Regions from separate parts of the Homo sapiens genome. Here all the other regions are linked to region 2. The links come from fine-mapping of genetic effects on gene expression. A gene starts in region 2. Each other region holds a variant in brackets. All regions are shown on one strand. Distances are from middle to middle.

What was found. PIP is the estimated chance that this variant, and not a neighbour inherited with it, causes the effect.
Region 1: its variant is fine-mapped to the expression of RDH12 in thyroid (GTEx, PIP above 0.99).
Region 3: its variant is fine-mapped to the expression of RDH12 in sun-exposed skin (GTEx, PIP above 0.99).

What each region holds. Positions count from the first base shown.
Region 1 is chr14:67,849,483-67,852,248 of GRCh38, reverse strand. The region is part of intron 4 of RAD51B (RAD51 paralog B); the gene reads right to left. Among named protein-coding and RNA genes, the nearest start is that of RAD51B, 31 kb to the right of the region's middle. The variant C/G (reference allele first, on the strand shown) is at 1,495.
Region 2 is chr14:67,700,776-67,703,541 of GRCh38, reverse strand. It overlaps RDH12 (retinol dehydrogenase 12), which reads right to left and starts at 1,656. Exons shown (of 9, transcript NM_152443.3): 1 at 1,607-1,656. It also overlaps a transcript of GPHN not described here.
Region 3 is chr14:67,721,467-67,724,232 of GRCh38, reverse strand. RDH12 (retinol dehydrogenase 12) reads right to left here. Exons shown (of 9, transcript NM_152443.3): 3 at 1,523-1,809. The coding sequence starts at 1,590. It also overlaps a transcript of GPHN not described here. Among named protein-coding and RNA genes, the nearest start is that of RDH12, 21 kb to the right of the region's middle. The variant C/A (reference allele first, on the strand shown) is at 1,214.

The DNA.
Region 1 (2,766 bases), 150 kb before region 2:
CTCTGCTGTTCCTTGCCAGGCAAGGCCACTGGCCTGGGCCCCCAGCACGCCCACTCCACCACCAACTGAGCACTCTGGTCAGTCGGTCACGGCTCTGGCTCTGTATTTCACTGGGTCAGAGCTCCCGGAGGTAACTGACAGGCCCACTGCAACTGCCTCTGTCAGGTCCTTGCTCCTGCTGCTCTCAGGCTGGGGAGGGAGTGAAGAGCCTGAGAGTAAGTAGACCTCCAGCAGGATGCAGCTGCCTTGAGAGTAAGTAGACCTCCAGCAGGATGCAGCTGCCTTCAGGAAAGGTGGCCAGACTCTTTGCTCTCAGAGGCCCAGCCCCTGCTGCTCCTTACAGGGCAGGGCCTCCTGACTTGGGCCGCCAGCACAGGCACCCCTACCCCCACATAATCACTTCAGTGAGTAGCAGCTCTGTTTCTCTAGGGTGGAGCTTCCAAAGGCAACTGACAGGCCCTCTGCCACTGCAGCTGCTGCAGTACCCATCCTTGCTACTTCTAGGCTAGGGAGGGAACAAAGGTGCTTTCAAGCACCTCCATCAGCAGAGAGGAGTACCCAACCTGCTCCCCATTCCCTCTTCCCAGGTACACCCCCCATCACCATCACTCCCAAAGGCAACTGAACAGGTCCTCTGCCGTGGCCACCCCTGCTGCCCCCAGGCTGGGGAGAGAAACTCCAGTGCCAGCAGCTACCCTTCAGAGAGGTGGCCAGAATGCTTTCCACATGACCCCCTTCCTCCACTGCCCACTCCCCAACCAGGACTGCTGCCTTCTGGCTTCTACTGCACATAGCCGACCCCTACATGAGCATTTCAGTCATGGCCCAAAGCCCTGTCGAAAACCTTACCCCCATAGACCTGTGATCTTCCCTAGGGCTCCCACCGCCTAAGTGCCCTGCCTGAGAGTTTAGCCCCTCACCCAGATATCAGCCCTCACCCCTTCCCATCACAGCCAGGACCTGAGGCTCCCCAACAATCCAGCCCCATCAAGACTCATAGAGGAAGTCCAGCCAGCCATCTAGGGACTAACTAGGGACTTACAGATCTCCCTACCCTATTCCAATTTTGCTAGTACTTTACCACATCTCCCATTGCCTGAGGTTGAACCGACGCAACCAGCCAACACCACCAAAACCAACACACCCCTGCAGAGGCCCAAAGAAGGAGTCCCCCAACCCCGCTCTTAAATGAAGAAGAGTCATCACATTGGAGAGCAGAGGAGCCACACAGCTACCTATATTAAGCTAAGTGATGAAGTTCTGCCCCAAAAACCACTCCCCTGGAGAGTCAAAAATTAGACATTTCCTAAGGCTCTCAACCACATGGTGGTCTGGAGATAGGCTGCAGTGTGTGTCTGATCCAGGAGTCAAGAGCTCTAGAACAAGGGTGTGACTGGGCAACAATCTACATTCCAGTCTATCTAGAAGGGGCTTGTGTAGCACCCCAAACCCCCACAGAGACTGTGGCACAATTCACTGGGAGCTTTTCCTAGC[C/G]ACCCTCATCAGGGTTGGGGACTACACTTCTACATTTGACATAGGGGTATTTGTGGACAAGCCAGGTTATCCACTCTACCCAGCTATGTCCCCAGCACTCCCGTAAAATAGGAAGTACATGGTATGCAGCCCTCCACAGTCTAGCCTATCACCTGGAACAACAGAGAGTTCTTCACAGTAAACAAATACCAAGTACATAACTGTCTGCTTCCACCACAGCTGACTCTCACCCGTAAGCATCATCTACTGGCCCGTAGGTTGAACTCCACAGCCCAATATACAACCTGCTGCCAGAACAGAAGGCCATGGAAACAAAGACAAAAGACCCTACTCGACATACTCTTAAGTCACACCCTTTAGTGAGTGGGGGAAGGAAAGGGGGAAAAAACAATAATAATACAAGAAAAGAAAGGGAAAGAAAACCCTACCTGCATGAAAATATCTACAAAAATTTGAAGTGCCAGCCAGGCACGGTGACTCATGTCTGTAATCCATCCCAGCACTCCAACCCTGGAGGCCAAAGCAGGAGGATTGCTTGAGCCCAGGAGTTCAAGACGACGGTGGGACACTGTCTATACAAATAATTAAAAAATTAGCCAGGCATGATGGCACACGCCTATAGTCCCAGCTACTTGGAAGGCTGAGGTGGGAGGATTGCTTCAGCCTGGGAGGTCGAGGCTACAGTGGGACATGATTCACTGTACTTCAGCCTGTGCAAAAGAGTGAGAACCTGTCTCAAAAAACAAAAATTTAGAAGTGCCAACACCTACAAATGAGAAGGAAGCAACATAAGAATGCTGGCACCAGAAAAATCCAATTTTTGTAACACCACCAAAGAATCACAGTAGCTCTCTAGGAAAGGTCCCCAACCAAAATGGAAACTCAGAAATGTCAGATAAATAATTCAAAGCATGGATTGGAAGAAACTCAAAGATATAAAAGAAAAGACTGAAAATCAACACAAAGAATCTAATAAAACAATCCAGGAAATGAAAAAGGAGATAAACATCTTAAAAAGGAATCAATTAGAGCTTCTGGAACTGAAAACTTCACTTTATGATTGCCAAGCTGTTGAAAATTTTATCAACAGACTAGACCAAGCAGAAAAAAATAATTACAACTGATATTTCAAACTAACACATATAGACAAAAGTCAAGAAAAAACAATTTTAGGCCAGGTGCAGTGGCTCACGCCTGTAATCCCAGTGCTTTGGGAGGCTGAGGTGGGAGGATCACCTGAGATCAGGAGTTTGAGATCAGCCTGACCAACAT
Region 2 (2,766 bases):
CTCTGTCTACCTCTATATATTTTTTCTGCCTACTTTGAAACTACTGACTTTTCTACTTGTGTTGAGATAAAGCTCACTGTTTATAGTATTACTAACTTAAGAAGACTTAGAAATTTTGTTTTTCTTATACGATTCAGCCAGTTCAAGCTAAAATGTTAACATTAAAAACCTAACTCTAAACTCATTTGAAACTGAATAAAAGGATAAAAGATTTTTAAAATAAAACTGCCATCGAACTACCTTACCCAAAAATTTTGGCTCACAGCCTTCATTAGATTACCTATTGGGACAAATAAAATTTAGCCATGTGAACTAACAGGTCCCAATTTTTTCCAAAAATAATTTAGATCCAACTATCTTTTATAAACTGGTGAGTTTGTATTACTATCTCATGACTAAAATTCTAAAATGAAAACTATAAGGGCCAGATGAGGTGACTCATGCCAGCAGTCCCAGCACTTTGGGAGGCCAAGGTAGGAGGATCATTTGCGCCCAGGAGCTCAAGACCAGCCCTGGCAACATAGTGAGACTCTGACTCTACAAAAAAAAAACTTTTTTAAGTTAGCTGGGCATGGCGGCACGCACCTGTAGTCCCAGGTACTCAGGAGGCTGAGGTGGGAGAATCACTTGAGCCTGGGAGGTCCAGGCTGCAGTGAGCCATGGTCATACCACTGCTCTCTACCCTGGGCAACAGAGTGAGGCCCTGTTTCAAAAGACAAATCAAAAAATAAAGGTATAAGATCTCTATTTGTGCATATATATGTGTGTTTAGATGTGTTTACATATATACATGTAATATGTTATATGTTGTATCTACATGATACCCAATTGACTTATAGATAAATGAGCACTCATAAATTAGTAAGCCCAAAGGTTTTCCAAGTTCACATGACTTAAGTAATTCTTTAATAAATAAACTGGCTTTAAAATTATTAGTAAAATAAATATTAAAATGTCTTCAAAATTGTCAACATACATATTTGCCTAGATTTATGGTCAGATTTATACTTGTCTTATTAAATATTTTACAGGGTCAGGATTTGGCACAAAGGTAAAAAACTATGAACCCAGCCAAAACCAAAATAATCTTTGTGTGATTTTTTTTATAAGTAAGACTAATTTAATATTGTTGGTTTAAGAAATACAGCTAAACCTTCTGAGTTATCAACAAAATACCCATGTATTTAACTTTAAATTTCTTGCTTAGGTAAATATCTGACATTCACAGGCTATAAAAATGGTTAATAGAAAAAAACTTAAAAAACTGAGCACAGGCCAGGCATGGTGGCTCATGTGTGTAATCCTAGCACTTTGGGACCCTAAGGTGGGAGAATCACTTGAGCTCAGGAGTTTGAGACCAGCCTGGGCAACATAATGAGATCTCATCTCCATTTAAAAAATATATATATATTAAATTTTTAAAAAAGCTGGGCACAGTGGTTCATGACTGTTATCCTAATGCTTTAGGAGGCCAAGGCAGGTGGATCATTTGAGATCAGGAGTTCAAGACAAGCCTAAGCAACATAGTGAGACACTGTCTCTACAACACAGTGAGATACTGTCTCTACAAAAATTTTGAAAATTAGTCTGGCATGGTGGCACTTACCTGTAGTCCTGGCCACTCAGGAAGCTGAGAAGGGAGGATTGCTTGTGCCCAGGAGTTGAGGTTACGATGAGCTGATCATGCCACTGCATGATAATAATTTATTACATGGTAAATTATTTTCCTAAAGCAAAATGACAGGTTAATTATAAAAGAGAAAGGGTAGGGCAAAACAAAAGTTCAAACATGTCATAAATAGTCTACAGAAATCATAATAGGCCTGGCGTGGTGACTCATGCCTGTAATCCCAGCACTTTGGGAGGCTGAAGTGGGCGGATCACAAGGTCAGGAGTTCGAGACCAGCACAGCCAAAATGGTGAAACCTCATCTCTACTAAAAATACAAAAAGTAGCCAGGTATGGTGGCGCATGCCTGTAGTCCCAGCTACTCGGGAGGCTGAGGCGGGAGAATCACTTGAACCTGGAATGCGGAGTTTGCAGTGAGCCAAGATAGTGACACTGTACTCCAGCCTGGGCAACAGACTCCATCTCAAAAAAAAAAAAAAAAAAAAAAGAAATTATAATAAAGTTCTTTAAAATTTTTTTAAATGTATATGTGATTAAGTTGGCTATAATCAAAAAAAAGTTATAAGTGTTTCTAAAGATTGAGATTTTGGTCCTCTATGTTAAAATAACATTGTCTTAAAGTATAAATTTGCTCTTAGTGAATTACAAGAGCTTTTGATTTTAAATTCTACAATCTATTTCTTTTCTAAAACTTCTCAAATTTATATCTCAAAAAATTCTACTTGTGCTATACCTCGCTGCACATGATTCCCAAGTCATGAATCGTTGTTGTTCGTTCTTTATACCCTTAAAAAGATACATGTTTTTCTTGGTTGAAATGATAATCCTCTCCTTCAACCTTTTTGTCAACTTCTGTAATCTTTGACTTTTTTTTTTTTTTTTTTTTTTGAGATGAAATTTTGCTCTTGTCACCCAGGCTGGAGTGCAGTGGCAAGATCTCCGCTTACTGCAACCTCCGCCTCCCAGGTTCAAGTGATTCTCCTGCCTCAGCCTCCGAGTAGCTGGGATTAGAGGCATTCGCCGCCGTGCCCAGCTAATTTTTGTATTTTTAGTAGAGACAGAGTTTCATCATTCTAGCCAGCCTGGTCTTAAACTCCTGACCTCAGCTGATCCACCCGCCTCGGCCTCCCGAAGTGC
Region 3 (2,766 bases), 21 kb before region 2:
GCAAACAGAGTAAATGCTGGAGTCAGGGCCAATGGAGACTTTCCTTGTTAGATAATAAATACATCTAGCTCTTATCTCTAGAGGTTCCAGAGGAAAGCTTTCCCCTCTAACCTACATTCAAAACATATGCATGATAAACATTAGCGGAGTCAATATTCAGTAACCATCATCATGAGTAACTGATGAACAGCACTCTGTGGGGGGTGGCACACACAGGTACTGCTCTTAGCACTCTGGGGGATGGCATACACAGGTACTGATCTTAGGCTGCCTCTCCAGTTTTAGGGAGTGGGTCATTTCCGAGGCTTTCAGCCATTGTATTAGAGATTTCATTCTGGCCGATGGCAAACAGAGAGAAAACCTCCTTTGTTCAGACCTCTGTGCAGAGAGCACTCTTTTACATGAAGTTGACTTCACAGGTCCTAAAACAGAATACGGAGGGGCAGAACTAACATTTCCTGCACATCATCTGACTGCCAATTACTAGTCTAGGCACTTTCCATATGTAATTTATTTTAATCCTCTCAACTTCTCCAGTATTATTTCCACATTACAGTAGAGAAAACTGAGGCTCAGGGAGGTTCATGTCACATAGTGGTGGCAGAAGTGGGACTTGAACCCAGATCTCTATGGAGAACCTAGAATAACACTGTCCTTGGTAGGTCCATTTAACCTCCTTTATCATAAGAAATTTTTTAGGCTGAGCCCAGTGGCTCATGCCTGTAATCCCAACATCTTGGGAGGCCAACGTGGGATGGTCGCTTAAGCCCAGGAGTTTGAGACCAGCCTGGGCAACATAGTGAGACCCCCATCTCCACAAAAAATTTAAAAAGTAGCTGGGTGTAGTGGCACCTGCCTATATTCCCAACTACTTGGGAGGCTGAGGCAGGAGGGTTGCTTGAGCCCAAGAGTTCAAGGCTGCAGTGACCTATGACTACACCAATGCACTCCACCCTGGGGTGACAGAGCAAAAATTAAAAAAGAGAAATTTAAAAATTCTCCACTCAGAACACACTTTTATTTGACACCTCTAGAAATCCCACAGCAAAAAAGCCATCCCAAAACATTAATTGAGGGTAGTCTCAAAGGCAGAAGAGTTTGTTTCTTTCCCAAACTACCTGGTACTTAACAGCATGACAAGCCAGCAGGGCCACCCTGAATAGGGACAGAGTCTCCGAGTTCTTCAGAGACACCCAAAGGAATAAAATGAAAA[C/A]GCAAGGACTCCCACCTAAGGTGTTTGTTGAGCTACTTGACAGAGTCATCCATGCAGCCTTCCGCTGGCAGTAGAACTCTCCCCAGAGCTCAGGTGGGGCCAGAACTCAGCCCCACCTCTGCCCGGCCGCAGATGCTTCCTTCTGGTTTTCCACCATGGTATCCACAACACCCCCTTCCTTCCTGCTTTTCCTGCCCTGACTTTCTCCTCTGTCAGCCTCCTTCCCTTTCTCTTCTTTCAGCAGCTGAGAACCGGCTTCCAGTGCAGGTCTTTGTAAACGATTGTTTGAGTTGCTGAATTAAGACAAACCTGATGGATGGAGCTACCATATACAGGAACGAGAAGAAGGAGGTGAGCAGTCCCAAGGTGACCAGCATCGTTCCAACTTCTGTAGCTGCTGTTGCTTTTGCTGCTGCTCCAGCTTCAACCCCAGCTCTGGCTCAGGTTCCTGGTCTGGCTCCAGCTCTTGGCTGCTTCTGCTGCTTCTCTGCTCCTCTCCGTCCTGGGTGCTGAGCAGCAGCCTGACTCTGAGCAGAGCCCAGAATCCTATTTAAATCCAAGAGCTGTCAGAGCACAGCCTGCTGGGAGATGTAGTCCTGGTGGGGAGGGGATGGAGTCAAGGTTTGAAGCTTACTTAGGTTTACTGGCAAAGAGAATGTGGGGAAACTAAAGCAAGTACCCCCTAAACCCCCCATCCTCAATTGTTTCTCTTCTCTAGGAAATGTGTTCTCCCAACCACTGCCACCTCTACTGCAAGATGGAATATATAGAATATTTCTAACTTTAGCCACAAACCCCATGATGCTTAAAATATGAGTGGATTAAAATAGGATGGGAAGGAAACTCCCAGAAGAATGGAGAGAGACGTCAGAAGAGCAGTTAACCTTAGGGAGGAGGGGGCAGTGACTGGGGAGGGAGATGACTGGAACTCCTGGAGGGCTGAGAGTGCTCTGCTCTTTCATCTGGGTGCTAGTACATGGGTGTGCTCACTTTATGAAAATCTGCTGAGTCGTATGCTTTCGACTTGTGCACTTTTCTGCATTTTATATTTTACTTCAATGAAGTTAACACACGCACATGCATATTACAAGGAAAGGTATGGTGTTTAAGTGCATGGACTCTAGCGCTGAATCTATTTAAAAGCTCCACGGCCCTGGGCAAGTTACTAAACCTCTCTGTTAACTCAGTTTTCTCACTTGTACAATGGGTATGATTATATATATAATATATGGTTTTATATATATATGTGTTATACATATATATATATATATATATATATATCCCCACTTGTTCTAAGTGTTCAATTATTACATTGGTGGAAAACGAAACTGGCATATGCTAAACAGTATATAAGAGTCAGCTGTTATGGTTAGCTGTTCTGATTCGTATCTCCCTTGCTATCTCACTTGCTTTACTCAAGGCCATGGTGTAGAAAAGGGAGAGATGATGAACGTGGGTGATGTTTCAGTTGAATGCTATTGAAGATGAGGAGAAATACAAGAAAATGCTGGTAAAGAGCCCAAGGTAGGGGGATCCCTTGAGGCCAGAAGTTC